3 separate regions of the Homo sapiens genome follow, and all the other regions are linked to region 1. The links come from fine-mapping of genetic effects on gene expression. A gene starts in region 1. Each other region holds a variant in brackets. All regions are shown on one strand. Distances are between the middles of the regions.

Region 1 (10,061 bases):
TGGCCAAGGAACACAGGGCTCTGAGCGTGGCCTGGGCTGCCTGACCCTGAGACAGGCACAGTGTCTCTCCCCCAGCCCAGGACAGAAGCCCCCTTGGACTGCTCCACTATGGAAAAGTGGGGTGCCCCTGGCTAAGCCCTGGGGGACACTGACCTGCTTGGAGAGCAGTCGTCCGTGCTTATACTGCACCGTCCCGTTCTCGGCAAACACATAATCAAACTTCTCAATGACTTCAGGGTCACATAGAGGACAGGAGGAAGAAAGAGTGTGAGACCACGTCTGTGACCCCACGGGCAAGTAAAGAGAGAGGAAGCCTACACCCTTGGTTTCACATTCAAAGGCCATTTGTTCAATCTGAGGCTACAACCTGCTTCTCCAGCCTTTCTCCCTCTGCAGCTTGGTTTTCTTCCAAAGAAGCCAGTCACACCTGTGGGCCTCTGCACACAGGCATCCATGCAGGTCCTTCTGTCAGAACCGCCCTTCCCTGGCTTCCCTGCCACTCATCCTCCAAGATTCAGCTTCCTCCTCTGGAAGCCATGCAGTACTCTCTGGCAGAGGGCATCATTTCCACTCTGTGCTCCCCTGCCCCTCTGCAGAGGGGCTCCCTTCTGTTCTATAGCTGCCATCGCACTGGGTTCTCAAGGCTGGCTGCATGGGAGAGTTGGAGGTTTCAGCTCTGACTGCCAGGCGAAGCAGTTGGAGTGGGTGGGAGGTGGGAGGCACAGGGAGCACAGCCCAGAGGCTGTTGCGGGGTCTGGGTGGCACGTGGTTACCTGGACTATGATGGCGTGGTGGAGATGGAGACAGAGGGGACAGGGAGATATTTTGGGGTTTGCTGATGGAATAAACAAGAGGTGGGGAAAAGGAAAAATTCGAGGAAGTTTCTGGCTTGAGGAACTGGAGGCACCCACTTTGACTGGGCTGAGACCAGGGGCTCTGAGGTCCAGTCGATTTCCTGGATAACTTCAGAGTCATCCTCTGTTAAATGGGATGATCACGCCTACTCTAAAGTGTGATTGTGGGGATCAAATGCAATGACATTAACACATGATCATTTTTGACAAATGGTAGCCATCATTGGTTCTGCCCTTTTATTTATTTATTTATTTATTTATTTATTTATTTATTTATTTTTGGATGTGTAGCCTCACTCTGTCACCCAGGCTGGAGTGCAGTGGCCTGATCTTGGCTCACTGCAACCTCCGCCTCCCAGGTTCAAGCGATTCTCCTGCCTCAGCCTCCCGAGTAGCTGGGATTACAGGCACGTGCCAACACACCCAGCTAATTTTTTGTATTTTTAGTAGAGACGGGGTTTCACCATGTTGGCCAGGCTGGTCTTGAACTCCTCATCTCAAGTGATCCATCCGCCTCGGCCTCCCAAAGTGCTGGGATTACAGGCGTAAGCCACTGTGCCGGCTGGTTCAGCCCATTTTAAAGATGAGGAAATCAAGACTCAGCAGGGAGAAATGAGAATGTAAACTGCATAAGGGCAGGTTCTGCTTGCTTTGCCCCAGCCATTTCTCAAGGGCCTGGCACAATCCCTGGCAATAGGAAGTGCTCAAGTGTTTGTCAAATCAGTAAGGGAACTATCTGGCTGCTCTCTCTCTATTTCTTCTGCCCCACAGAAGCAGGACTGGATCTTTGAAGACGCCCAGGAATCTCTCAAACTCCCCACTCCCTCTACCCCCAGCCTCACTCCTACCTTCATCCCCGTCACCCAGCTGCTCAGCGATCTTACAGTAGTCAGAGCCGCCCACCACACCGATCTGCACTCTACTTCGTAGCTTCTGCAGGAAGGCGGCCACCTCAGGGTCAATTTTCTATGGGGGGAGAGGGGAAGCATAGCATTCTGGCTTTCAACATGTCTGGGACCTCCACTTAGCCCTCACTTAGTGCTGAGAACCCAGGAAGCCCACATTCTACCTGGATCTGAAGCAGTACAAAGCTTAGACACCAAAAATTAGACAGGTTGGACACTGTGGCTCAGGTCTGCAATCCCAACACTTTGCGAGGCCAAGGCAGAAAGATCACTTGACCCAGGAGTTTGAGACTAGAGCCTAGGCAGCAAAGGAAGACATTGTCTCTATGAAAAAAAAAATTTTTTTGGAGACGAATTTTTGTTCTGTCATCCAGGCTGGAGTGCAGTGGTGTGATTCTGGCTCACTGAAACCTCTGCCCAGGCTGGAGTGCGATGGCGTGATCTCAGCTCACTGCAACCTCTGCCTCCCGGGTTCAAGCGATTCTTCTGCCTCAGCCTCCCGAGTAGCTGGGATTACAGGCGCCTGCCACCATGCCCAGCTAAGTTTTAAATTTTTAGTAGAGACAGGGTTTCGCCATGTTGGCCAGGCTGGTCTTGAACTCCTGACTTCAGGTGATCCATCCGCCTGGGCCTCCCAAAGTGCTGGGATTATAGGCGTGAGCCACCGTGCCTGGCCGAAAGTTTTTAAAAATTAGCCAGGCATGGGCTGGCACGGTGGTTCACACCAGTAATCCCAGCACTTTGGGAGGCCCAGGAGGGTGGATCACTTGATGTCAGGAGTTCGAGACCAGCCTGGCCAACATGGTGAAACTCTGTTTCTACTAAAAATTAAAAAAAAAAAAAAAAAAAAATTGGCCATGCGCGGTGGCTCACGCCTGTAATCCCAGCACTTTGGGAGGCCGAGGCGGGTGGATCACAAGGTCAGGGGATTGAGACCATCCTGGCTAACATGGTGAAACCCTGTCTCTACTAAAAAATACAAAAAAATTAGCCGGGCGTGGTGGCACGCGCCTGTAGTCCCAGCTACTCGGGAGGGCTGAGGCAGGAGAATGGCGTGAACTTGGGAGGCAGAGCTTGCAGTGAGCTGAGATCACGCCACTGCACTCCAGCCTGGGCGACAGAGCGAGACTCCGTCTCAAAAAAAAAAAGAAAAAAAAATTAGCTGGGCGTGGTGGCAAGCGCCTGTAATCCCAGCTACTCAGGAGGCTGAGGCAGGAGAATCCCTTGAACCCGGGAGGTGGAGGTTGCAGTGAACCGAGATCATGCCATCGCACTCCAGCCTGGGGGACAAGAATGAGATTTCATCTCCAAAAAAAAAAAAAAAAAAAGATATTAGCCAGGCATGGTGGCACTTGCCTGTAGTCCCAGCTACCAGCTACTCCAGAAGCTGAGGCGGGAGAATCACTTGAGCCCAGGAGTTCGAGGCTGCAGTGAGCTGTGATAGCGCCACTGCACTCCAGACTGAGTGACAGAGTGAGACCCCGGTCTCTAACAACAACAACAACAAAATAGCATCACAATCAAGTTGATTTTTGAGGAGCCAAAGAACAATAACAAAAATAGCCTCACAAAACAATGCTTAATATTTGCTCTGGGCAAATAGATCCAGATAAAGGCCTGGAGGGAAGCCACACCACAGTAACCACATTAACTTGGGGAGCCGGCCAGGCTCCCCAAGTGCGGTCAGAGTGGACTTTACCCTTCTCTGTTACGTTTCCATTCTTTACCAGGAGAGTGTGCTCATGAAAATGTGTACGATTAAAAATTAACTTTCAAAAGGCACTAAGCACAGAGGCTGGCCCGTAGACAAATTAATAGGCTGTTCTTATTCAGGTTGTTATGTTTGTGGAGCAAAAGGTCAGAGGGAGGAGTCAGAACTGTGCCTAGGCCCTGCCACTTTTGTTCCAGTTCTTTTATTCATTTATTTGTTTGTTTGAGACGGAGTTTCACTCTTGTTGCCCAGGCTGGAGTGCAATGGCACAATCTTGGCTCACTGCAACCTCCACCTCCTGGGTTCAATCGATTCTCCTGCCTCTGCCTCCCCAGTAGCTGGGACTACAGGCACACGACACCACGCCCATCTACTTTTTGTTTTGTTTTGTTTTGAGACTGAGTCTCCCTCTGTCGCCCAGGCTGTAGTGCAATGGCACATTCTCGGCTCACTGCAACTTCTGCCTCTCGGGTTCAAGTGATTCTCCTGCCTCAGCCTCCCGACTAGCTAGGATTACAGGTGCATGCCACCACGCCTGGCTAATTTTTTGTATTTTTAGTAGAGATAGGGTTTCACGATATTGGTCAGGCTGGTCTTAAACTCCTGACATCGTGATCTGTCTGCCTCGGCCTCCCAAAGTGCTGGGATTACAGGCGTGAGCCACTGAACCCAGCCTAATTTTTGTATTTTTAGTAGAGACGGGGTTTCACCATGTTAGCCAGACTGATCTAGAATTCCTGACCTCAGGTGATCTGCCCACCATGGCCTCCCAAAGTGCTGGGATTACAGGCGTGACCCACAAGCAAATGGCCCACCTTTGCTCCAGTCCTGCTATCTTCCTCCCGGATCCACCCCTGCAGGAAGGCCTCCAGGGCCCAAGCCAGGGCAACTTCACCACAGAGGATGGGGAGGGGCATTCGGGACCTAAGAGAGGAGGCTAAGACCTGGGTTCCCATCAGCCACTGCCCAGTAAAGCCCATCCCACTGCTCCCCCACGCTAGGAGACCTGTTGGTTGGTCCTTGAGGCCCCCAGACTGGAGGGTGGGTTACCCACAGGGAGGGCATGAATGAAGCCTGCTTACTGATGCATCCAGCTGGTGAGGGGGCTTTTGGGGACTCACTCACAATGAGACCCAATGGGAGAAAAACTGAGCAGAGGTAAGAGGCTCAACACAGCGAGAGTCTTTAGAAGAAAACTAGACTCTTACCCTCACTATTCCTCAGTGTCCTCACAGCAAACAGGCTAGGCCTGGAGCCTCTCACATCCGGGTGGGTAGAGCTCATAAACGAATTTGAAAAGAAGCCCTCTCTGCTCCACGACTGGGGGTGGAAGGTAAAGTGGGTGATGGGGCTTCAGAAACTAGACCCAGTCCCAGGCCTGCAAAGGTCGGGGTGGGAAGACTCCGAGACGCCCTGTCTCCCACCAGATGATGACTGACGCTTGGCTGTGTGCTTGTGTGCCTGGAACCCCGGTTCAGAAGCCAGCTCCGACCACTGGTGTGTCGTAGGGCTGAACTAGGGTGGGATCCCCAGCTCAGGAGGCGGGGGCGTCCGTGAGCCAGGCCTTAGCGGCGTGTGACAGCCTCCGGGGAGGGAGGGAGCTAGGCCCCTGCTCGCAGCCTCCTCCCTCCAGTACTGGATCCAACCCCAGCACTCCCAAGCAGAACACAGGCAAGGACGCTGCGGGGTCAGTGACGTGAGGGCCAGGTCCCCTCACTCCCGGTGGGTGGCCCCGGATGTCAGGGGGCCGGGTACCGCCGCATCCCACACTCGGTCCCCGGGTGTCCACGGTCACGCTGCTGCAGACCCCACACTCAGCCTCGGGGGTGTCCGCGTGACACTCCCGGTGGGAGCTTCCAATCTTCAGGGTCCTACCTGGCGAGCCGGCGTGAGGGTCCCGTCCACGTCAAACAGGCAGAGGACGCGCTCCTTCCTGCGGGCTGCCTGGGCGGTGACTGCCATGGCTGCAGGTCCGCGCGCGGGGCGGAGTCCCGAAGATGCAACGGCAGAAGCAGCTCAGGGATAAGTGCTGACGGGGCGGGGCATTAGGGGGCGGGGGCCAGTGGACTGCCTGATTGGCCAAATGAAGAAGGGGCGTGGTCTAGGCGGGCGGAAGCGGGGGCGGGGCCTGAGCTGATTCTCATTGCTCGTGGAGGAGGGGAGCGCGGCATAGGGCGGAGCGGAGCCCTCCAGGTTCGATTGGATTGCTCCAAACAAGGCGGAGGAGGGGCCTGAGCCTGGGACCCGCAGGAAGTGAGAGGGTGAACCCGGAAGACAGGGGCGGGGCCAGAATTGGCGGGTTGATAGTGATTGCAACAGGCCGATTAAGGGGCTGGGTCGGGCGGGGCCTCTACCATGCAGTGCAGTGTCTAGTGGGCCAGGCGGGACTAAGAGAGCCGAGGTCGCTCCCCATCCACTCTCACAAGGTTTGTGGCCATCTCTTTGCCTTACAAATTTTGAGCTGTAGGAAATCTCCTGAGCCGGGCGCGGTGGTTCACGCCTGTAATCCCAGCAGTTTGGGACGTCGAGGCGGGCGGATCACCGGAGGTCGGGAGTTCGAGACCAGCCTGACCAACATGGAGAAACCTCGTCTCTACTAAAAATACAAAATTAGCCAGGCGTGGTGGCGCATGCCTGTAATCTCAGCTACTCAGGAGGCTGAGGCAGGAGAATCGCTTGATTCCAAAGAAGCCAGAGGTTGCGGTGAGCCGAGATCGCGCCATTGCACTCCAGCCTCAAAAAAAAAAAAAAAAAAAAAAAAGGAAAGAAAAGAAAAGAAAAGAAATCTCCTGAAGGCCTTTGTTCAGGCTTTGGACTTTGCCAAATTGCCTTCCCCGAGCCTTATTCCTTCTGTCCACACATAAGACCCAGCTCTCAGGGTCTACCTGCTTGGAGACCTTCCCAGATTCTTCTTTTTTTTTTTTTTTTTTGAGACAGAGTCTCGCTCTGCCCAGGCTGGAGTGCAGTGGCGGGATCTCTGCCCACTGCAACCTCCACCTCCCAGGTTCAAGCGGTTCTCATGCCTCAGCCTCCCGAGTAGCTGGGACTGCAGGCGTGTGCCACCATGCCCACCTAATTTTTGTATTTTTACTTACTTTTATGTTTATTTTATTTTATTTTTGACACAGGGCGATTTATTTATTTATTTATTTATTTTTTGAGACTGGGTCTCACTCTGTTACTCAGGTTGGAGTGCAGTGGCATGATCTCGGCTCACTGCAACCTCCGCCTCCCAGGTTCAAGTGATTCTCCTGCCTCAGCCTCCTGAGTAGCTGAAACTACAGAAGTGCGCCACCACGCCCGGCTAATTTTTTTTTTTTTTCTGAGACGGAGTTTTGCTCTTGTTGCCCAGGCTGGAGTGCAATGGCACGATTTCAGCTCACCACAACCTCTGCCTCCCGAGTAGCTGGGATTATTTTGTACCCACTACCACGCTCGGCTAATTTTTTATTTTTAGTAGTAATTTTGTATTTTCACCATGTTAGCCAGGCTGGTCTCGAACTCCTGGCCTCAGGTGATCTGCCTGCCTCAGCCTCCCAAAGTGCTGGGAATACAGGCATGAGCCACCGTTCCCAGCCAACCTTCCCAGATTCGATTCACAATTATTTAACCATTGCGTTGACTTTGGAGTCACTTCCAGGTTGCCTTCCCAGCTCCACCACTATGGGACCTTGGACAAGTCACTTCACCTCTCAGAGGCTTTGTGTCTTCACCTATAAAATGGGATGAACACCACCTGCTTTGTAGGTTTGCTTTTCACATGAAAATAAGTAACAGGCTGGGCGCGGTGGCTCACGCCTGTAATCCCAACACTTTGGGAGGCCGGGATGGGCAGATCACCTGAGGTCATGAGTTTGAGACCAGCCTGGCCAACATGGGGAAAGTCCGTCTCTACTAAAAATACAAAAATTAGCCGGGCATGGTGGCAGGAGCCTGTAATCCCAGCTACTTGGGAGGCTGAGGCGGAAGAATCACTTGAACCTGGAAGGCGGTGGTTGCAGTGAGCCGAGATGATGCCACTGCGCTCCAGCCTGGGAGACAGAGGGAGACTACACCTCAAACAAACAAACTAACTAACTAACTAACTAACTAAATAAATAAAAAATAACTGTAGAGCTGGATGCGGTGGCTCACACCTGTAATTCCAGCACTTTGGGAGGCCAAGGTGGGTGGATTGTTTGAACCCAGGAGGTCAAGATCAGCCTGGGCAACATGGCAAAATGCTGTCTCTACTAAAAATACAAAACATTAGCCAGGCATGGTGGCAGGCACCTGTGGTCCCTCAGGAGGCTAAAGTAGGAGAATCACCAGGAAGCTGAGGCTGCAACGAACCAGATCTTCCCACTGCACTCCAGCCTGGGTAACAGTAGTGAGACCCTGTCTCAAGAAAAAAAAAAAAAAAGATGCAGATCATATGAGTCAGCAATTCAACTTTTAGAAAATAGGAAAAGAGGCTGAGCGCGGTAGCTCACGCCTGTAATCCCAGCACTTTGGGAGGCCAAGGCAGGCAGACCACAAGGTCAAGAGATCGAGACCATCCTGGCTAACGTGGTGAAACCCCGTCTCTACTAAAAATACAAAAAATTAGCCAGGCGTAGTGGCGGCACCTGTAGTCCCAGCGACTCGGGAGGCTGAGGCAGGAGAATCCCTTGAACCCGGGAGGCGGAGCTTGCAGTGAGCCGAGATCACACCACTGCACTCCAGCCTGGGCCATAGAGCGAGACTCTGACTCGGAAAAAAAAAAAAAAAGGCCAAGCGCGGTGGTTCACACCTGTAATCCAGCACTTTGGAAGGCTGAGGTGGGCGGATCACGAGGTCAGGAGATCGAGACCATCCTGGCTAACACGGTGAAACCCCATCTCTACTAACAATACAAAAAATTAGCTGGGCGTGGTGGCGGGTGCCTATAGTCCCAGTTACTTGGGAGGCTGAGGCAGGAGAATGGTGTGAACCTGGGAGGCGGAGCTTGCAGTGAACCGAGATCACGCCACTGCACTCCAGCCTGGGCAACAGAGCAGACTCCGTCTCAAAAAAAAAAGAAAGAAAAGAAAATAGAAAAAAGGAAAAATATATGGAATTGTTTAAATGAACTAAGACCCATCTAGAAGATGAAATGCTACGAAGCCATGAAAATCTGCATTGTGTTTGTGTGCGTGTGCACGTGTGTGTGTAGAATAGGGTCTCACTATTTTGTCCAGGCTGCTCTCAAACTCCTGGCCTCAAATGGTCCTCACGACTCAGCCTCCCAAAGTGTTGGGATTACAGGCGTGACCAAAGTGTTGGGATTACAGGCCTGACCCACCGCACCAGATCCCCAGGCACAATTCTTGTTTTTCTGACTGGGTAGCTATGGTGTCCTGGAGAGATCATTGGAGTTGGAATCAGGAGAACTGCAGTTTGGTCCTGGCTAACTACAAGGACTTGGACAGGTCACCTTTCCTCACTGGGCTTCAGTTTCTTTATATGTAATGAGGATATAAACCCCACGTGATAGAACTATGAAAGGTGATGAGAGGTGACAGCGTACTAGCAGCCCTCGCTCACTCTTGGTGCCTCCTCAGCCTCGGCGCCCATTCTGGCCGTGCTTGAGGAGCCCTTCAGCCCGCCGCTGCACTGTGGGAGCCCTTCTCTGGGCTGGCCGAGGCCGGCGCCGGCTCCCTCGGCTTGCGGGGAGGTGTGGAGGGAGAGGCACGGGCGGGAACCGGGGCTGCAAGCGGCGCTTGCGGGCCAGCTAGAGTTCTGGGTGGGCGTGGGCTTGGCGGGCCCCGCACTCAGAGCGGCAGGCCGTGCCGGCCCGAGCAGTGAAGGGCTTAGCAGCCGGGCCAGCAGCTGTGGAGGGTGCGCCGGGTCCCCCAGCAGTGCCGGCCCACCGGCGCTGCGCTCGATTTCTCACAGGGCCTTAGCTGCCTCCCCGCTGGGCAGGGATCGGACCTGCAGCCCGCCATGCCTGAGCCTACCCTCTGCCGTGGGCTCCTGCGCAGACAGAGCCTCCCCGGCGAGCGCCGCCCCCTGCTCCATGGCGCCCAGTCCCATCGACCACCCAAGGGTTGAGGAGTACGGGCGCACGGCGCGGGACTGGCAGGCAGCTCCACCTGCAGCCCCGGTACAAGATGCACTGGGTGAAGCCAACTGGGCTCCTGAGTCTGGTGGGGACTTGGAGAACCTTTATGTCTAGCTAAGGGATTGTAAATACACCAATCGGCACTCTGTATCTAGCTCAAGGTTTGTAAACACACCAATCAGCAGCCTGTCTAGCTCAGGGTTTGTGAATGCACCAGTCGACACTCTGTGTCTAGCTACTCTGGTGGGGACTTGGAGAACCTTTGTGTCCACACTCTGTAACTAGCTAATCTAGTTGGGACGTGGAGAACTTTTGTGTCTAGCTCAGGGATTGTAAAGGCACCAATCAGCACCCTGTCAAAACGGACCAATCAGCTCTCTGTAAAACAGACCAATTGGCTCTCTGTAAAATGGACCAATCAGCAGGATGTGGGTGGGGGGGTGGGGGAGGCGGTGGGGGGGTGGGGGAGGCGGTGGGGGGGTGGGGGTGGGGGCGGGGGTGGTGGCGGGGGTGGGGGGGGCGGTGGGGGC
Region 2 (10,061 bases), 300 kb after region 1:
CTTCCTGGGGGATGAGATTATAGGTGGTTTTGTTTTACTTTCTTGTAGCTTTCTGAAGTTTCCCTCGTTTTTATGAGTGTGCACTAATTCCTCTGATAATTGGGGGCAGGGGGAGTAGAAGTCTATATCAAAACAAAAAGCCGGAGCAAGGCCAGTGACCATTAACACCTTTTGATACTTTGTAGGGAGATTTTGCAGCTGCTGCCGGCAACCTACAAACCTGCCTGGCAGTTTTGGGCCGGGCACTGCCCACCTCCCGCCTGGACCTGGCCTGCAGCCTCTCCTGGAACGTGATCCGCTACAGCCTGCAGAAGCTACGCCTGGTGCGCTGGCTGCTCAAGAAAGTCTTCCAGTGCCGGCGGGCCACGCCAGCCACTGAGGCAGGCTTTGAAGACGAAGCTAAGACCAGCGCCCGGGATGCGGCTCTGGCCTATCACCGGCTGCACCAGCTGCACATCACAGGTGAGGGGGCAGCTGCTGCTGCCTGGCTTGCTGCAAGGCATCTCATGCTACCTCTCCTCCTTAGCTTGATTTGCCAGTTCTGCACCCTAGCTGAAGTCCCTTTAACGCTACTCTTTTAGAGTGGCTAGACCAAGCTTCTACCTGTTTTCACAGCTGTAAGGTTGGCTCTTTGCTTTAGCTCATCAGTTCTCAGATGCACATGTTTTCACAATAACATCACTATACTCAGGATGTGTCCTATAAACAGTGGCACATTGTAGATAAGTTGGCAGTGTTTTTCTTTAGTGATACTTAAATTAATGGTGAGACTTAAAATTGCTGACATCTTAGAGTCAATGAAATATGATCATCTGTTTCATTCAGTAAGCTCCTGCTATAATAGGCAGAGAGGTCAACAAATGAATGACAGTTCAGCGTGAGTATGTTAGACTTAGCAGAAGGAACATGTTTTCGTTGGGAGGGAGTGGGTACCCGTTTGGAGGGTTTCAAGAAAGGTTTTCTGGGGAAGTAGAGTCTTGGCTTTGCATGGAAGGATGCATAGAGGTCACCAGCTCTGCAGGAGATGAGCCTCTGGGCAGAGGGATGTTCCCAAGGAGGAGCCCCACCTGGGGTGGCTCTTGAGAATAAGCCTTCAGTGGTCCTAGAGGGAGCCAGGGCACAAAGGCAGTACTCAGACCATGAAGGATTTGGATGCCAGGCTGAGGATCTTGTAGTGTATCAGTAGGATTCAGTGAAGAGCATTAGGAAAATAGTGATATGATCAGGTTTGTGCTTCTCAAGTTTAGAAGAGTCAGGCTGGGCATGGTAGCTGGCTCACACCTGTAGTCCCAGCACTTTGGGAGACTGAGGCAGGAGGATCACTTGCACTCAGGAGTTCGAGACCAGCCTGGACAACGTGGCAAAACCCCATTTCTACAAAAAATACAAAAATTAGCCAGGCTTGGTGATGCACACCTGTAATCCCAGCTACCCAGGAGGCTGATGTGGGAGAATCACTGGAGCCTGGGAGATCAAGGCTCCAGTGAGCCAAGATTGCACCATAGCACTCCAAAAAAAAAAGTTTAGAAGATTCACTCTGATGGCAGATAAGGAGTGGATCCCAGAGGATCAAGGCTAGAGCTAGAGAGGCCAAATAGAAGCTGATGCAGATTAAAGATGAGAGTTGCTGAAAGGACAGATGAGAGGAAATTAGAAGGTGGAATTGACTGGACTGGGGACTCATTGGACTGATGGATGGGGACAGTAGTCAGCTAAGACGGTTCCCTGGTTCTTCCTTGGGAGTTTGGGTGAGCGATGGTGCCACCAACAAAGGTAAAGAAAATAGAAGGAAGAGCAACTTTCCAGGAAAAGGGTGGTGAGTTCCCTTTTGGACACTTGCCTGTGAGATGTGGAGGTGAGCTGGACATGCAGGATCTACAGCCCAAAGAAGACTACAGGTGAGAGTGAAAAGCAAGGGAGCCTATGAGAGTGGATAGGTGAAAAGGAGACCCTCAGGGCCATTCAGAAGAACACCCTCATCTAAAGAACAGATAGGCCATCGCGGTGGCTCACACCTGTAATCCCAGCACTTTGGGAGGCCAAGGCAGGTGGATCACCTGAGGTCAGGAGTTCGAGACCTGCCTGGCCAACATGGCAAAACCCTGTCTCTACTAAAAATACAAAAATTAGCCGGGTGTGGTGGCACGTGCCTATAATCCCAGTTACTCGAGAGGCTAAGGCAGGAGAATCACTTGAACCCAGGAGGTGGAGGTTGCAGTGAGCCAAGATGGCACCACTGCATTCCAGCCTGGGCAACAAGAGCAAAACTCCATCTCAAAAAGAAAGGATAAAGGCTGGCACAGCAGTTCACATCTGTAATCTCAGAACTTTGGGAGGTCAAGGAAGGAAGGTCGCTTGAGCCCAGGAGTTTCCCATCAGCCTGGGAAACACGGGGAGACTCCATCTCTCCAAAAAAAATTCAAAAAATTAGCTGGTTTTTGTGGTGTGTGTCTGTGGTTCCAGCTACTTGAGAGGCCAAGGTGGGAGGATCACTTGAGCCTGGGAGGTAGATCGAGGCTGCAGCGAGCTGTGATTGTGCCACTGCACATGCATGCAGAGATGAACAGATAGAGGATGGGGAGTCAGGGGCAGAGGCTGCCTGAGAGGAGCAGTTGGAGAGGTCTGAGGAGACACTGAGATGCTAAGTGTTGGAGGAGCAAGGTCAGAGAGTTGAGGAGGGGAGATTGTTGCTGGGACACCCAGTAAGATGAGGGCCAGGAATAACAGTAGGATGTGGTAACTGGAAGGTGTTAGATACCTTGATGGCAGTAAGGAGCTTCAGCCAAAAGTGGAACAGAGCCAGGCAAGTGATGTAGGAGTGACCAGGAGATGAGACAGTGGGGCCATTGTGCAGCTTTAATATGTGGGCTCATGGTAGAATTTTAGCAGAAGGTCCCTATCTGCAAATTTGCCCCGCTGTTATCTTGTCTGTTCCTCAGTGTGCCCTTGGGACAGAATAAGCCCATACTCAGGTCTCTGATCAGGCTGTGTCCTCCTTGCTGCCAAATTCTGGAGAATTCCAGCTGAGAAGCTTTACGTCACTCATTCCTTCCATACTCACTGGCATTCCCTGTGTGAGGCACTGAGGGGACAGAGGTAACTACAGTATGGTTGCCACACTGCCCTCTCACCTCCCTTCCTGTGTCTCCTGCAGGAGGAACACCTGAGGCCAGTACAGAATGGAGTGTGGAGGCTGAGATCTCCCTAGGCTGATAAAAAGACAGGGAGGCAAGGCAGCCCAGGAGGGGGAACACAGGGCTGGATGAGCACGGGAAGCCTGGCTTTGCCACTGTCTGCACCTTGACATGGGCACTTCCTCCCCTGAGGCAAGGAGACTGCTTGCCCTTGTAGTGAGGACCAAAGCCAGCAACAGTATGAAAGCCTCACGAGAGCTGTGATGGGCCCTTGTGCCTGTGCAAGGATACTTTGTTCCCTGATTAGGGGATCAGCCCCAGATGGGCCACTGTGCACCTCTCATAGGGGAGGGTGTGGTAAGCCTTCCTGGCCTCCCACCCACTAACCCAACATGTGTTCAGCTGTCCTTGCTCAGTTTACGTCACTTCCCCCTCAAACGGGTATGTGTTTGTGTATTGTGAAGGCGGGTTTTTTTTTGGCTTTTTTGGGGGACAGAGTCTCGCTCTGTTGCCCAGGCTGGAGTGCAGTGGTGCGATCTCAGCTCACTGCAACCTCCGCATCGCAGGCTCAAGCAATTCTTCTGCCTCAGCCTTCCAAGTAGCTGCAATTACAGGCGTGTGCCACCACGTCCAGCTAATTTTTTCTATTTTTAGTAGAGATGGGGTTTCACTGTGTTTGCCAGGCTGGTCTCGAACTCCTGATCTTAAGTGATCCGCCGGCCTTGGCCTCCCAAAGTGCTGGGATTACAGGTGTGAGCCACTGGCACCCAGCCACATTGTGAAGGTTTTTTAATGAAAATAAATTCAAATCAGTTCATCTAAAAAAAATTTCATTACCTCTGTTGAATGTTTGGAAACACACAGTGTGGCTGTGCTGCTGACATTGTTATGTTGCACTGTGCGCCTCTGAGTCCTATACAACAACCTGCAATTGTGACAGCTCTGGGTGTGACAGAAATGGGTGCCATGTTCCCAGCTACCCTGTGAGGTAGACAGGAACACACAGCCAGTATATCACAGAGCCTGGCATCCCATCCTGTGATCAGGCCTGTCTGATCACAAAGTTCACCTCGCTTCTCCCCTGGTTCCTCTCTTACTTTGATCGTGCTGGAGAGAGCAGGAAAAAGTTTGGTTTTGGGGCTCCATCAACAATAGTGTCTGTTTCTGCCCACCCTAGGGAAGCTTCCTGCAGGATCCGCCTGTTCCGATGTACACATGGCGTTGTGTGCCGTGAACCTGGCTGAATGTGCAGAGGAGAAGATCCCACCGAGCACACTGGTTGAGATCCATCTGACTGCTGCCATGGGGCTCAAGACCCGGTGTGGAGGCAAGCTGGGCTTCCTGGCCGTGAGTACCCTTCGGTTCCCTTCTGTAAACCTCCCCTGAGCACTTACCTAGCCAGGAGTTAAGATGCAGAAGCAGTTATGAACCCCCTTCCCCATCAGGTGCTGCCCACCTGGAGGGGTAGGCAGGCATTCATTCAGTCGCTCATTTCACCAGGACTCCCAGCAACCGATAAAACAGACCAAAATTCCTCCCCTTGTGGCCTTAATACCATAAGCCTTGTAGGCAGGACATTTTGGTCCCCTGAGGTAATATGAGGTAATATGAAGATTGGTTCAGCAATAGCAGAGCTACTGTACTTGGGGGTTAATATGCAACTTTTCTGTTCTTCAAGTGGTCATAAAAATTCTTAGAATCCCCTGGTTATGTCTCATGGTTCTTTCATTTACTCAGAAGGTATTTATTGGGCATCTTGTATTGATCACAGCACTGTGAATCCAGAAATAAAAGCCAGTGCCTTTGCCAAGCTACAGAGTTAAAGAAAAGAAAAATGAAATGAATAAAAGTAAAAGAAAACCTGTGCCTGTCTACAAGGAGCTCAGGTCAGACGAGGGCAGG[G/T]ATTGTGGCTATCAAGCACCTCCCATATGCCTAGCTAGGAGCCAGGCTTGGGAACTCTCAAATGGGTAATTCCCGGTCCTTGTTATCAGCTAGCTCACAACATGCTGACCTCAGGCTTTCTCTTACTCTAGCAGAAACAGGTATGTTTTACTTTGTGTCCCACTATGGATAGACTGCTGAATACATCAGGTATGTTCAAGCATTACCACATCTCTATTTGTTTCCGTATCTCAGTAACAGCAGAGATGAGCTGAGAATGAATCAGAACGTGCCCTGTAGTGACATTGATATATTTCCTGAGGTACATCACGATAGTCTAGGGGACAAAGGGCGCAGGGAAGCCCAGTGTACTCTTTATGTCTACACTTGATCTTAGCCAGAAGGCTGAGAAGTGATACTTTTTATGTCTTACCTCTGTTTCTGGTGACTACAGATAAGAGACTCATCCCTTGATTCACTCATTCAGCAAATATGACTGAGCACCGTCTCTAAGCAGGACATTTGCCTTGTCCTCAGGGAGCATAGTTGGCAAGGAATCTAGACAGCAGCCCTTCTTGAGCTTGACATTGATCTTCTCATGAGGAGGACTGGGCTCCAGGTGGGGAAAGAACCCCATCCTCACTTGTGGGCTAGACGACCTGGGAGTCCACAGACACTGAAGACACATCATTCTTCCTATTCATTTCAACCTTCCCTCGACAGATCTTCCTGGGACCAGGTCTTCAGGACAGTGTGAGCTAGGGTGAGCTCCTGAGCTGGTCTTGGGGGAAGTCAGGGTGGGCTTTCTGGGGAAGGTGAATCTAGGCTGACAGCAGGAGGCATTGATGAGATCTCTCTCCTTTTCAGTTTATTGAAGTGCTCTGGGCTGATGTCATTACATTTGTAACTTCCATGCCCCCCAAAAATGTTTTGAAGACATTCATTTTATCAAAATACAACATACATGCAGAAAAATGCCCACATTTTAACTTACGGCTTGAAGTGAAGTTACCCATGCAACACCCACCCACATCAAGAAGTAGAACATTCCCAGCACCCCCAGAAGCCTTCTTGAGGCCCTCCCTGCTCTTCCTGCCCCAACCAAGGTAACCACTCTTCTGAATTCTGTCACTGGAGTTTAATCTGTCTATTGTTCATCATTTCAGTAAACTTATCAAAGTACATGCTTAGAAGTCTGGCTGGGAGGGCCGGGCACGGTGGCTTACCCCTGTAATCCCGGCACTTTGGGAGGCCAAGGCGAGCAGATCACCTGAGGTCAGGAGTTCAAGACCAGCCTGACCAATATGATGAAACCCTGTCTCTACTAAAAATACAAAAATTAGCCAGGCGTGGTGGCATGTGCCTATAATCTCAGCTACTTGGGAGGCTGAGACAGGAGAATCACTTGAACCCAGGAGGTGGAGGGTGCATTGAGCGGAGATCACGCCATTGCACTCCAGCCTGGGCAACAGAGCAAGACTCCATCTCAAAATAAATACATACGTACATACAAACAAAAATTAGCTGGATGTGGTGGTGCACACCTGTAATCCCAGCTACTTGGGAGGCTGAGGCAGGAGAATCGCCTGAACCTGGGAAGTGGAGGTTGTAATGAGCCAAGATTGCACCACTGCACTCCAGCCTGGGTGACAGAGTGAGTGAGACTCCGTCTCAAGAAAAAAAAAAAAGATTACAATATGCATGTCAAAAAGTATACAAATCATAAATACACAGTTCAGTGACTCCACAGAGTAAACACACCCTTATAGCCAGCAGACAGATCAAAGTACAGAACCAAGACCCCAGAAACTTCTCTTGGGCCCTTTGCAATCACTAACCTGCCCCTTCCCCCAAGCCTTCCAGCCTTCCAAGGGTAACCACCATCCTAGTCACCTCAGATGCTTTGCCTCTGTTTAAACTATATTAATATAAGGAGAGTCTTGCAGTATACACTGTTTTGTGTCTGACTTATTTTGCTCAATATCATGTGTAAGAATCATTATGTTGTTATGTAGAATTATAGATTGTTCGTTCTCATATTTATAGTGTTCCATTGTATGACTAGATTATTGCAGATGAACTTTTTAGTTGTTTTCTGGCTTTGGTTATTATGAAGGGTGCTGCTGTGAACCTCCTTGTACACACATCTTTCAGGAAACGTGACTGCATTTTTAGGAATGGCATCGCTGGGTCAGAGGTTGTGCGTATTTCCAAATTGTTGGCCATTCTCCACTCCATCAGCAGTGAACAAGACTTCTAGTTCTACATCCTTACCGAACACATATAATGTCAATTTTTTTAAGCCCTTCTAGTGTATCTCATTGTAGTTTTCATTTGTACTTCCCAGGTGATTAATGAGATTGAGCACCTCTTCTTACATTTATTGGCAATTTGGATAGTCTGTTTCGTTACATTCAATTCAAGTCTTACCTCTTTTTCATTTGGACTATCTGTCGTCTCATTGATTAGAGGAATTCTTTATTCTGGAGATTACCCCTTTATTGGATATATGCTTTTCAGATACCTTCTCCCACTCTGGGGCTTGCCTGTTCTGTCTTAATGGTGTCTAGTGAGAGCACAAGCTCTTAATTTCAGTGAAATCCAGATTATTAGTCTTTTCCTTTACAGTTAGACATTTTAAGTCCTGTTCAATAAATCTTTGTCCTACCTCAAAGTCATGAAGATATTCTCCTATGTTGTCTGCTAGACGCTTTATTTTTTACTCTTTACACATATGTACCTAATCCACCTGGAATTAATTTTTATAAGAGTTGGAGGTAGGAGTGCAAGATCTGTTTTTCTCCATAAGGATATCTACCTGACGCAGAACCTGTTATTTTAAAAACTATCCTTCCCCTGCTGCACCAAGTGGCACCTTTTTTTCATAAATCAAGGATCCGTGTACCGTGGGTCTGCCTCCAGATCTAGTCTGTTCCACTGCACCATCACCACCCAACCCTAACGGCTGAGTTTTCTCTTACGTCTTGATGTCTGGAAGTGTTGGTCTTCCAGATTTAGTGACTAACGATGAATCTTGGGTGTTTCTTTGTAGCCTCTTCATTCTACAGAGGTACTTGATGCTGCTGATGGACATTTGGGTTGTTTCCAGTATTTGCCGTTATAAACAGTGCTTTAGGGAACATTTTTGTCCATTGTCTTCATGCACCTCCATAAGAGTTTCCTCAGACCAAATCTGTAGAGATGGTGATGCTGTGTCAAAGGATATAAATATTTGAAACTTAATAGTATTACCAAATTTGCATATTCAGTAAGATGGAAAAAGGAGAACTGTCATCTTTAAAGTAACTGCTCTTCTCTGTTTACTTCTCTTGAGAGAGGATAAAGAGACTCAGACAGTACTTTCTTATAAAGGAAGAAGCTTTGAATTTGGTGAGATATATTTAGCTACAAATGAGCCAGTTGTTGGGGGCAAGTGGAGGGCTGGCCTCTGTGAAAATGGTTTAGACTAGAGGTTCCCAAACTTGCTCAACTCATGACTCAAGATTCCCAAACATTCTCTACTCACTATGTCTCAGTAAATTTTTCATGGCATCCCTTAGCCAAAAGAAATACCTAACGGTTCTGGTTTTCGTTTTTTGAAACAGTGTCTTGCTCTGTTGCCCAGGCTGGAGTGCAGTGGTGCAATCACGGCACACTCTAGCCTCAACCTCTCTGGGCTCAAGTGATCATCCCACCTCACCCTCCCGAGTAGCTGGGACTGCAGGTATACACCACCACACCGAGCTTATTTTTGTATTTTTTGTAAAGTCAGGGTTTTGCTATGTTGCTCAGGCTGGTCTCGAACTCCTGGGCTTAAGCGATCTGCCCACCTCAGCCTCTCAAAGTGCTGGGATTATAGGCATGCACCACCGCGCCTGGCCTCTGTTAAGTAGTTAAGTTTGAACATCCTAATAGGTATTTAAATTGTCTTAACAGCTTAGTGGTCATTTGAAAAAATCATATGTCAAGTTGAAAGAAGAAATAATATTTTTTGCTAGGAGTGGTAGCACACACCTGTGGTCCCAGCTCCTCAGGAGACTGAGGTAGGAGAATCTCCTGAAACCACGAGTTTGAGGCTGCAGTTAGCTATGGTCACACCTGTGAATAGAGCCACTCCACTCCAGCCTGGACAACATAGTGAGACCATGTCTCTATTAAAAAAAAAAAAAAAGAGGTTGGGCACGGTGGCTCATACCTGTAATCCCAGCACTTAAGGAGGCTGAGGCGGGTGGATCACCTAAGGTCAGGAGTTTGAGACCAGCCTGGCCAACATGATGAAACTCCGTGTCTACTAAAAATACAAAAATTAGCCAGGGATCGTAGCACGCACCTGTAATCCCAGCTACTCGGAAGGCTGAGACAGAATCACTTGAACCCAGGAGTCAGAGGTTGCCGTGAGCCGAGATTGTGCCACTGCACTCTGGGTGACAGAGCAAGACTCTGTCTCAAAAGAAAGAAAGAGAGAGAATATTTTGGATTCTTAATAATTTCTTAGAAATCATGGTTATTAAGAATCCAAAATATTCTTTTATTTATTTATTTATTTTTTGAGATACAGCCTCACTCTGTTGCCCAGGCTGGAGTGGAATGGCTCTTCACAAGCATGGTGTCACTGTTTCTTACCAATACATGAACCTGTCAAGCACTGCACACCTCAAGCTTTGGAATCAGACTAGCAACCATCACTCTCTCTCTTTTCCACATTGATTTTCACACAGTACTATGACAGATATCACATCTCCAAAGGAAGCTAGTGTGGTCTCAATGCTGAGGCTGCATGCTCTCCCCATCTAGTCACTTACAGTGCCCAGCTGATGTTGAGCATCACTGTTTTCCTCGAAAGTTTAAAATAGCCAGTGGCTCCCTTGATCACTTGCTGTGGCACCTCAGACTGCCTTGGCACACGATTTGAGAGCCATGGGGTTAGACCGATGTTAGGGGACACAACCTGGGGTTGGGACTGGCCCAGGGATACTGAGTGGCTCTCAGGATCTAAACAGTTGTGGGGTTCTTGCCACAGCCTCTTTCACATCAGGCAATTAGCAG
Region 3 (10,061 bases), 350 kb before region 1:
CCCGGTGCTGTGAAGGCTGGACGGTGGAGGACCTGCTGGGGTCTCCTGGGACCCGCCTGTTGCTTCTGCCCTCCCCTGTGGAAAGGTCTATATGACGGGCCGCCTGAGGCCCCAGAACTCGTCTGTGAACCACCTTTTCCAGCCAGAGTTCCCAAAGCTGGAACGCTAGCTGCCTGCTCTTCCTTAAGATGGCCTCCCCCCGACCCGCCACGGCCCTCAGTTGCCAGGGATGGGGCCACCACTGTCACACTGTGGAATACAAGACAGTGAACTCTGTCTGCCTGAACGAGCCATGTAAATTAAGTTCTAGAGCAGCTCTCTGAGCAGGATAAGGTCCCCTGACAGTGAGTTGTGTGGTGGGGGCAGCCTCTGCCTCAAAAATTCACCAAGCAGAATGCCTCTCAGCCTCATGTGTTGGTCCTCTGCTCCTCCTAGCTCCCCAGGGATGTTGGGGACCCAGCTTGTCTCGGCAGCTAAGAAGCAGTGACCAGGATGTGGATTTTGGCGACCTGTGTGGTGGCCTTGAGCTGCTTTCTGTGTTTGTGAGGACTGACTCCCATTTCCTAAAGGAAATGCCCCCGGGGAGGACATTGGGAGGAAGATGGCCTGAGTGTGCACTTTGGCTCTGCTACCTGCTCCTGAAGCCCCGCTAAAAATAATTCATCCAAGATTCCTTTGTAGTTAAAGGGTCCAGTTCTGACTGGAGCCTCTAGAGAGCTGGGCTTGTATGTTCTTTTGGCCTTTTGTTCCTACCTAAATGAAGAAACCATGCCTGGAGGGGCCGTGAACACAGAACCCTCAAGACAAGGATGACAGAGCTGGAGGACACATCTAGCTGCCATTGCAACCTCACTGGGCTCCCCAGACTCTGTGTGTGAGAAATTAAACCCCCTGCTTGCTTGAGTCCCGTTTGTTAGATCTCTATTCCTTGCAGATTGTGTTCTGACCCCACCCCCCCACCTCGTGGTATCGATCATGAAGGCCACGTGAGTCAAGACACGAGTGTGCAGGGCCGTAAAGAAATGTCGCCTGTCATCAGCTCAAGTTCCCTGTCTTAGCCACATGCTGTCATTCTTTACGGTTGTGCCATTCTCCCCAAAGACTGTGAGTTCCCCAGAGATGGAGCCTGTGTCCGCCTGTGCGTAGCACCTGGCATAGGCTGGCATAAAGTTGGCTTGTGTGTGTGAAATGGGAATGTGCGCATGACCACGTGTTGCTGGTGCCTAGAGGTCAGCTTGATTTGTTGGAGATAGAAGTATTGATCTCTTGGGAGTTTTTGCTCAATCCATGCAGTAACCTTGTGCCTCAGTTTGCCCTTGGAGGGAACTCAAGTTCTTGGAGTCTGAGCAGTGGGGCTGCTGGCAGGGAGGCATTTGCAAACCCCTCATCCCTGCTTCTGCCTCAGGACCCACAGGGGCTCCTGGTACAGGTGAGACCAAATCCAGACCCTTCAGGAACCTGCCCTGCCTCCCTTGTCCTTTATGGCCATCCAGTCTAGCCCCTCTGCTGCAGGGAAAGGGATGCAAGGGAACTCCATAGTATCAAGAGCCCCTACCCAGGTGCCAGGTTAAATAGGTATCTAAATGGCTCATTTCACCTTCACAGTAACCCTGTGCAGTACTGATGGGAAAAAAGAAGCCTCAGTACAGTTTAGTCGTTTGGCTGCTTAAATTTACACCTGTTGCCGGGCGCGGTGGCTCACGCCTGTAATCCCAGCACTTTGGGAGGCCACGGCGGGCGGATCACAAGGTCAGGAGATCGAGACCATCCTGGCTAACACGATGAAACCCTGTCTCTACTAAAAATACAAAAAATTAGCCGGGCGTGGTGGCAGTCACCTGTAATCCCAGCTACTCGGGAGGCTGAGGCAGGAGAATCACTTGAACCTGGGGGGCGGAGGTGGCAATGAGCCGAGATTGCACCACTGCACTCCAGCCTGAGCAACAGAGCGAGACTCTGTCTCAAAAAAAAAAAAAAAAATTTACACCTGTAAAGGATGGCAGTGGGGTTGAACCCAGGTTTGTCTGCCAGATGACCTAGTCGTGAGTCAGTCATTCAGCCTTCCCGAGCATCTTCTGGGTGCCAGACACCAAACTAGACACGGGCATCAAGGGAGACTGGCAGACGTCCATCCTGGTGCCTTCAGCAGGCGAGCATCTCCAGCCGGGAACAATGCCAGTGCCTGAGCCTCAAGATAAGAGCCCTCTGCCTTGAATTCCTTTGTATTCCTGGGAGGAAACTGCTACTTTCATCAAAATAACCCACAATACTGAAAGGAGTATCAGAAGGGATGGCTAGGTCAAATGGCCTGAGACGTCCTGATTCCAAAGCCATCATACTGTGTGTAGGGGTGGGGACCCGGGGTGTCTTTCCCTTTTAACTAAAGCCCTGACCTGGAAGTGGACTCATCAGAGCTTCCACTCCTGAACCCAGCTCCGCTTCTACATGAGCCTCCCGGGGCTGACGCAGGGAGAAAGCACTGCTGCCATTTCCCAGTCGCGCACGTGACTGCCAACTGAGATTAGTATTGCTCTCATCAACGATAGTTCCGGGTCTGGCTTCCAAGGCAGAACTTGCTTACCTTCAGCTTGGGGTCTTTTCAGGAGTTCCTTCCCGGCTCCCAGCCAGAAATTAGGAACACTTTATAGACTGACTTGTGCCCATCCCAAAAGGCTGGATCCCTAACCCCAGTACCTCAGAGTATGACCTTACTTGGAAATAGATTCCTTACAGAAGTAATGAAGTTAAAATGACATCCTTAGGTTGGGCCCTAATCTAATAGGCTGTTATATTTATAAAAAGGGGAAATTTGGCTGGGCGCAGTGGCTCACACCTGTAATCCCAGCACTTTGGGAGGCTGAGGCAGGTGGATCACCTGAGGTCAGGAGTTCGAGACCAGCCTGACCAACATGGTAAAACCCCTTCTCTACTAAAAATACAAAAGTTAGCCATGCGTGGTGGCACGCACCTGTAATCTCAGCTACTTGGGAGGCTGAGGCAGGAGAGTCGCTTGAACCCAGGAGGCAGAGGGTGCAGTGAGCCAAGACTGTGCCATTGCACTCCAGCCTGGGCAACAAGAGCAAAACTCCATCTCAGAAAAAAAAAGGGGGGGTGGAATTTGGGCAGAGACAGATTATAGAGGGAAGATGATGATACACAACATCACGTGAAGGTTGGGACAGAGATGGAGATTATGCTGCCACAGATCAGGGAGCACCTGGGGCCACCAGAAGCTGGAAGAGGCAAGGGGGACCCTTCCACTACCTGTTCCAGAGAGCACTACCGGTTCCAGAGAGCACGCCCCTGCCAACACCTCAACGGCTGACCCCTAGCCTACAGAAGCTCTGCTGTTCTAAGCCACCCAGCTCCTAGCATTTTGTTGTGGCAGTCCTAGGGGATGAATACAAACACCAACTAATGGCCCCAGGAATCCCAGATGTTCAAAATGCAGGTCCAGGGGAGATAGAGCCCTCTCCCCACCTTCCCAGGCCCCACTCTATTCTCACTTTCCCTGGAAGAACTTCCTCTCCCTTTTGGACACCTCCGTGGCCTTACAGGCAGTGGTTCCTACATACGGGGGTGCCTGTATCTTGTGCACCCTTCTCTGATATGCTGTGAGTTTGCTACAACTGAGGGGTCAAGCTGGGACTAGATATGTCAGGATGGTGAATGTACTATCAAGTGGGGTCCAACCTATGGCTAGTAGGTGGTGGGAGGCAGAGCCAATGATGCACCTGCACTTCCACTCTCCCCATCCCTGGGATCCTGGGATGAGGGAGACCCCTTAGGTCAGGCTGGGACATGGTTGAGTCAACAGTGATCCAGCAAATATAGAAACAGCAGGACCGATTTTAGGGATACATCTGGACCAGCACAGTGTGGCTTATAGGAAAGGCCACTGTCCCACAGCAGGAGCAAATGGTCACTCCTTGCAAACCCACCCTGGGTCTAGCCCAGAGGTGGGGGCAGGGAGGAGGGAAGAACGGGAGGATGGACATTATTATTATTATTATTATTATTATTATTATTATTGAGACGGAGTCTCACCCTGTCGCCAGGCTGGGGTGCAGTGGCGTGATCTCTGCTCACTGCAACCTCTGCCTCCCGGGTTCAAGCGATTCTCCCACCTCAGCCTCCCAAGTAGCTGGGATTACAGGCGCCCGCCACCACGCCCAGCTA[A/ATTT]TTTTTTTTTTTTTGAGACAGAGTGTTTTTGAGTCTTGCTCTGTCGCCCAGGCTGGAGTGCAGTGGTGAGATCTCCGCTCACTGCAAGGTCCACCTCCTGGGCTCACGCCATTCTCCTGCCTCAGCCTCCCAAGTAGCTGGGACTACAAGCGCCCACCACCACAGCCGGATAATTTTTTTGTATTTTTAGTAGAGACAGGGTTTCACCGTGTTAGCCAGATGGTCTCTATCTCCTGACCTCGTGATCTGCACGCCTCGGCCTCCCAAAGTGCTGGGATTACAGGCGTGAGCCAACGCACCCAGCCATAGTTTTTGTATTTTTTAGTAGAGATGGGGTTTCACCATGTTGGCCAAGATGGTCTTGACCTCTTGACCTCGTGATCCGCCCACCTCGGCCTCCTGAAGTGCTGGGATTACAGGCGTGAGCCACCGCGCCCAGCCTCGGATGGACATTATTGAACTGACGCAACTGGGTCATTGCCCAGCTCTGGAACCACATGAATCAGGACCAAGCCAAGTCAGGCTCCTGCTTCCTGGGGACTTTGGAACCTGGCCCACCACCCACCAAGGTCTCACCCCTCCTGCCCCATGGCCAACCTTATCTGCTCCACACTGTCTTCCTTTGATGGGGGTTCTCCTGGCACTGGGCCTGGAGGCTGGTGTCCGCTTGGCCTTTCTGGCAGCCCAGCCCGGGCAGTCTTCAAAGACAGCAGCTGCAGCCTTCACCCTCTGGCCACGGGCATTGGGAGGGGTGGCGCAGGTGGCCCCCACCCGCAGGTTCAGCCCAGTAAGCCACCTGAAGAGAAAAGAGAGCTGGGGAGCTAGCTGTGCTGATTCTGCTCCAGTGGCCTGGAGCAGGTGGGCACTGGGTGTGGGGCAGGGTTGGTGCAGAAGGCAGCACAAGGCCACAGGCAGCATGCATTCATTCGCTCAACAAGCATTTGCCAGCTTTCCTGAGGAGGTCAAGGAGGCCACCAGGAATTTGGGAGCGGTGGAGCCTATAGGTGACAGCAGGCTCTGCTGAGAATCTTGGCGGCTCACCAATTATGTGACCTACAAGCCACTTCAAGCCTCTGATCCCTTCTTTGTAAAAAGGGGATAATAATAGTAATAATAAACAGTTAGAGGGCTTACAACGTAGCAGACACTGTTCAAATCAACTTATCTATGCTAATTTCATTCTTACAACAACCATCATGAGGTTAGATACTACATCCCCCCTTTTTACAGATGGGCAGGAAAGGTTACGCGGCTTGCAGAGTTAGTTGGTAAAATACCAGAGCCAGGACTGGAGCCCAGGTCTGCAGGACTCCAGGCTTCTTGTGACTTTTTATTTTTTTTTGAGATGGAGTCTCACTCTGTCGCCCAGGCTGGAGTGAAGTGGCGCGATCTCAGCTCACAGCAACCTCTGCCTCCCAGGTTCAAGCAATTCTCCTGCCTCAGCCTCCCAAGTAGCTGGGATTACAGGCACCCACTACCACGCCCAGCTAATTTTTGTATTTTTAGTAGAGGCAGAGTTTCACCATGCTGGCCAGGCTACTCTCAAACTCCTGACCTCAGGTGATCAGCCTGCATTGGCCTCCCAAAGTGCTGGGATTATAGGCGCGAGCCACCATCCCCGACCTCTTGTGACTTTCTCATGTAATTATGTAAAGTGGTCTCGCCTACCTATTAGGTCCCAGCCCGCTAGGCAGAGCAGATACCATGCCCACTTTATGGATGATGAAATCAAGGCTCAGAGAAGTCCACCCTCAACATCCCCAGGAAGGGTAACTAACCCTGGAAAGGGCTTATACATGCCTGGCTCTCACAGGACCCGCCCCTCCCCACAAGCTGCTCGGATGGGCATGGACATGGTGTGCCTGGGGAGATGACAGGGGCTTGACTGAGAGTGGCTGGGTGGTCTTTGGCTGGAGGTCTAGGTGGGGGTGCCCACCTGTGCAGCGGAAGCAGCTGGCAGTCACAGTGGAAGGGATTGCTGCTGAGGTCGATGAGCTCCAGCTGGCTGAGACTGGGCAGGGCAGGCAGGGCCCGAAGCTGGTTCTTCTGCAGGTGCAGGCTCTGGAGCCCGGGCCCCAGGCCTGAAAAGGCCCCAGGACAAATCTGCAAGGAGTTGCCAGGCCCCAATGTGAGCTCCTGGCAGAGCTGTCCCACCCCCAAGTCTGGAAGGGAGCCCCATCTTCCCTCAGCAGAAGAGAAGCTGGAGAGCCCAAGCTGGTCCAGCCAGGAAGTGCAGCGCTGGGTCAAAACCCAGGCTGGTCTGATGTCAAAACACTTGCTCCGTCCAAGTCACCCAGATGCCCAGTTCATGGTCCACCCCACCACCCAATAATGGCAAAACCTCTTGGGGGCTCTCAATATGTACAAACAGTAGATGACTGCATGGTCCCAAATTCCTCCCTCCTCTATGCTCCAGCAATACCGTCCTGTGCAGGCACCGTGTGTGGCCTGGGTTCTGCCCGGACTGTCACTCACACCGGTAGGGGCAGTCCTGGTTTATCTCAGGGTCCCCGTGCCCAGGCTGAGACCTGGCACCAAGGGGCTGGCAAATGCTTGTTGAGTGAATGCACGCTGCCTGTGGCCTTGTGCCGCCTCCTGCACCAACCCCGCCAGATGCCCAGTGCCCACCTGCTCCAGGCCACTGCTGTTCAGGAAGAGGTGCTGCAGCGACCTGCCCACAGGCTGGAAGGCTCCGTCACGCAAGGCCCTGAGTGGGTTGCCCGAGAGCTGCAGCTCCAGGAGGGCAGGCAGCCCCTCCAAGGCCCCAGTGGGCACCTCTCGCAGCTGATTCCTGTCCAGGTGCAGCTTCTCCAGCTCCCGAGCTGGGCCCAGCGCCCCAAGGGACACTTCGGTGATGCGGTTTCCACTCAGGTAGACCCAGCGCAAGGCCCGTGTTCTCCCCAGGTCCCCAGGTGCCAGGCGGTCCACAGCGTTGTCCTGCAGGTGCAGGGAGAAGAGGCTGGGCAGGGCGCGCAGGGCAGCCCCTGGCACCTGCAGGAAACGGTTGCGTTCTAGGTACAGGTAGCCGAGGCGGGGAGCCCCTTCAAGGGCAGCAGCGCTGAGGCCTGCGAGCTGGTTGTCGGAGAGGTACAGGTAGATCAGGCGGCCCAGCCCGGCCAGGGCGCCCGCTTCCAGCTCCGCGATGCCGCAGTGCTGCAGGTGCAGCGACACCAGGTGGCCCAGGCCGGGGAAGGCCGCTCGGGGCACCGAGGGGAAGTGGTTCCGCCTCAGGTCCAGGAGCTGGGTGTCGCTGGGGAAGCCGCGGGGCACCGCCTGCAGGCCGCAGCCCTCGCAGCTGCTGTGCCGGGACTCGGGGACGCACACGCAGGCGCGAGGGCAAGGCGCGACTGCCCGCTCCTCCCCGGGGCCGCGCGGAGGGCCGCGCGGAGGGGCGCGGGGCCCGGCCACAGCCCGCTCTTCCAGCTCTTCCTCTTCCTGCGCCGCGTCCCCAGGGCAGCGCAGGTCCCAGGGCCGCAGGGCGTCCAGAGCCTCGCCCCGCAGGCGCCGCGGCCCCTGGCACGCGCCGTCCGAGCGCACGCGCGCCCGCGCCAGCCACTCGAGTAGGGGCCGCGCCTGGCAGCCGCACCACAGCGGATTCCCCTGCAGCCGCAGCCGGCGCAGCTGGCCCGGGCCCTGCAGCGGGGGCAGGGTGTCTAGCTGGTTCCCGCGGAGGTCGAGGGTGTGCAGGCGCGGACAGTGTGCGAAGGCCCTGGGACCCAGGGCCTGCAGGGCCCCGCCGTCCAGCAGCAGCTCCCGCAGGCCGGGCAGCGCCAGCCCGTCCTCCTCGCCCGCGTAGGTGAGCGGGTTGTGGCCCAGCTCCAGACGGGCCAGGCCGCGGGCCTGGGACAAGACAGGCCCGGGCAGAGCCTGGAGCTCGTTGTGGTGTAGGCTGAGCCGTCTCAGGGCGGGCAGGCCAGCCAGGGCCTCGGGGGCCAGCACGCTGAGCGCGTTGTGCGACAGCCGCAGCCAGCGGACGCGCAGTAGCCCCTGGAAGGCCATGGCGGGCAGGTAAACCAGGGCGTTGTGGGCCAGGTTTAGCGTGGCCAGCGCACCCAGTGCCCCGAACGTCCCCGGCCGCAGCTCCTCCAGTGCGTTCCCCTCCAGCTCCAGCCGCCGCAACGAGCCCAGCCCGTCCAGCGCCTCCTGGGGCAGCTCACGCAGGTGGTTGGAGGCCAGGTTGAGCAGGAGCAGGCGGCCCAGGCCACGGAAGGCGCCCTCGGCCACCAGCTCCACCTCGCAGTGGCGCAGGTCCAGGTGTGTGAGGTGAGGCACGCCCTGGAAGGCGGCTGCGGGGATCACCTTCAGCAAATTGCCCTGCAGGTCCAGCCGCTGGGTCAGCTGGGGACAGCGAGGAGAAAGTGGGGCTGAGCCAGGCAGGGACCCCGCCTTTGCAAGTGCTGCTTCTTCCCCGGAACACTCTTTTCTCCTGTCACCTTTCCCATATTTCTCTTCATCCGACCCCTGACACCTCCTCCAGGAAGCCTTCCTCTCCAGTGCCCTGGGCATCACCCACTGTGGCATTTTTCACACTGTGCTGTCCCTGCCTCCTCGCTCTCTCTCCTCCACTAGCTGATGACTCTGCAGAGCAGAGACCACACCTCACCCTGCCACAGCCCGCCTCTCCACCACAGGGTCTGCAGTGAATTCAGTATCGATCTATGGGTCACCTACTTATTCCATTCACACAGTAAGGATTTTAAATAGATCATCTCCCTGTTACTGGTTTTTATTATTCCCATTTTACAGAAGTGTAAACTGAGGCTCAAAGAGAAGTAATTTGCCAAGGTCTCCCGGGCAGGCGGTGGCAGATCAACTGGTGCCCAGCCCAGGCTCCTCCCTCTGGGTCCCCACCTTGCCCCACTGCCACTCTGTGCCTGTGCTCCTGCCCTGCTGACCTCAGGGATGGCGTCTGGCACCTCAGTGAGGTTCTGGTACCGGCAGGCAACGTGTCGCCTGGAGTTGTCACAGATGCAGGCCTGTGGGCAGCGCTGGGCGGCGGCCTGCCTAGCCGGGGCCAGCAGCAGAAGTACAAGAAGCGGCAGCACCAAGGGGACATGGGTGGAGCTCCGGGGCCTGGGACGGGGAGGGAGAGTCTGTTGTGCACAAGGGCCGAGGCCACATGCTGTCCCTCACTTAGTCCCAGCCATGGTGCAGCTCCTGCCCCAAAAACCCCTCAGAGCCTCCTCCTTTGGGCCCAGGAAAGTGCCAATCACCCTGAGCCTCCCTGCCCCCCACCCCCCACGCAGTGGAGGTCCTATGATTAGTCCTGTTTTACATGGGAGGAAACCGAGGCTCAGAAAAGTGACCTGGTTAGTCCCTTTGCCTCTGCCCAATGGCTCAGTGAGGACTTGCTGACTGTGAGAATGACTCCAGTTCAGAGCATGTTCTCAGGCTGTGGTGAGGCTCTGGTCCAGGGTAGGCTCGGAAGCAGCCTGTCCTCAGACTGATATGATGCCAGCTCCCAGGTGGCAGGAGCATAATGGTACCCCCCAGAAAGGAGGGAGGCATCCAGTCCGGGTCCTTGAGTCTTTTTTTGTTTGTTTGTTTAAATAGAGACAAGCCTTGCTCTGTTGCCCAGGCTGGAGTCTGGAGTGCAGTGGAATGACTATGGCTTACTGCAGCCTTCACCTCCTGGGCTAAAGTGATCCTCTCACCTCAGCCTCTTGAGTAGCTGGGACTACAGGCACACACCACCACGCCTGGCTAATTTTTTAATTACTTCTGGTAGAGACAGGGTCTCGCTATGTTGCCCGGGCTGGTCTTGAACTCCTGGCCTCAAGTGATTGTCCCACCTTGGCCTCCCAAAGCGCTAGGATGATAGATCACCTCCCCTGCCCAGCTGGCCCCTCTGTTCTCAGCCTGTGTCAGGCATGGCCTCTCCC

Which allele goes with the higher level. Positions count from the first base shown, and alleles are read on the strand shown. Sizes are in standard deviations (SD) of each study's normalised expression. Not every link is listed here.
For the expression in monocytes after LPS of the gene that starts at base 5,467 in region 1, allele ATTT in region 3 goes with a higher level than allele A (large effect, 1.7 SD a copy in Quach 2016).

What was found. PIP is the estimated chance that this variant, and not a neighbour inherited with it, causes the effect.
Region 2: its variant is fine-mapped to the expression of PMM1 in iPS cells (HipSci, PIP 0.95).
Region 3: its variant is fine-mapped to the expression of PMM1 in monocytes after LPS (Quach 2016, PIP 0.95).

Annotation. Positions count from the first base shown.
Region 1 is chr22:41,584,374-41,594,434 of GRCh38, forward strand. It overlaps PMM1 (phosphomannomutase 1), which reads right to left and starts at 5,467. Exons shown (of 8, transcript NM_002676.3): 1 at 5,346-5,467; 2 at 1,703-1,820; 3 at 154-230. The coding sequence starts at 5,432. RefSeq lists an enhancer at 4,592-5,271 and a silencer at 5,666-5,815.
Region 2 is chr22:41,880,531-41,890,591 of GRCh38, forward strand. It overlaps SREBF2 (sterol regulatory element binding transcription factor 2), which reads left to right. Exons shown (of 19, transcript NM_004599.4): 10 at 186-462; 11 at 4,312-4,481. Among named protein-coding and RNA genes, the nearest start is that of MIR33A, 15 kb to the right of the region's middle. The variant G/T (reference allele first, on the strand shown) is at 5,037.
Region 3 is chr22:41,230,369-41,240,429 of GRCh38, forward strand. It overlaps CHADL (chondroadherin like), which reads right to left. Exons shown (of 6, transcript NM_138481.2): 2 at 9,075-9,252; 3 at 6,808-8,517; 4 at 6,116-6,282; 5 at 4,777-4,975. L3MBTL2 (L3MBTL histone methyl-lysine binding protein 2) reads left to right here. Exons shown (of 17, transcript NM_031488.5): 17 at 1-903. Among named protein-coding and RNA genes, the nearest start is that of CHADL, 5.5 kb to the right of the region's middle. RefSeq lists enhancers at 6,362-6,950, 6,951-7,539, 7,540-8,128, 8,129-8,716 and silencers at 7,314-7,413, 7,474-7,853. The variant A/ATTT (reference allele first, on the strand shown) is at 4,180.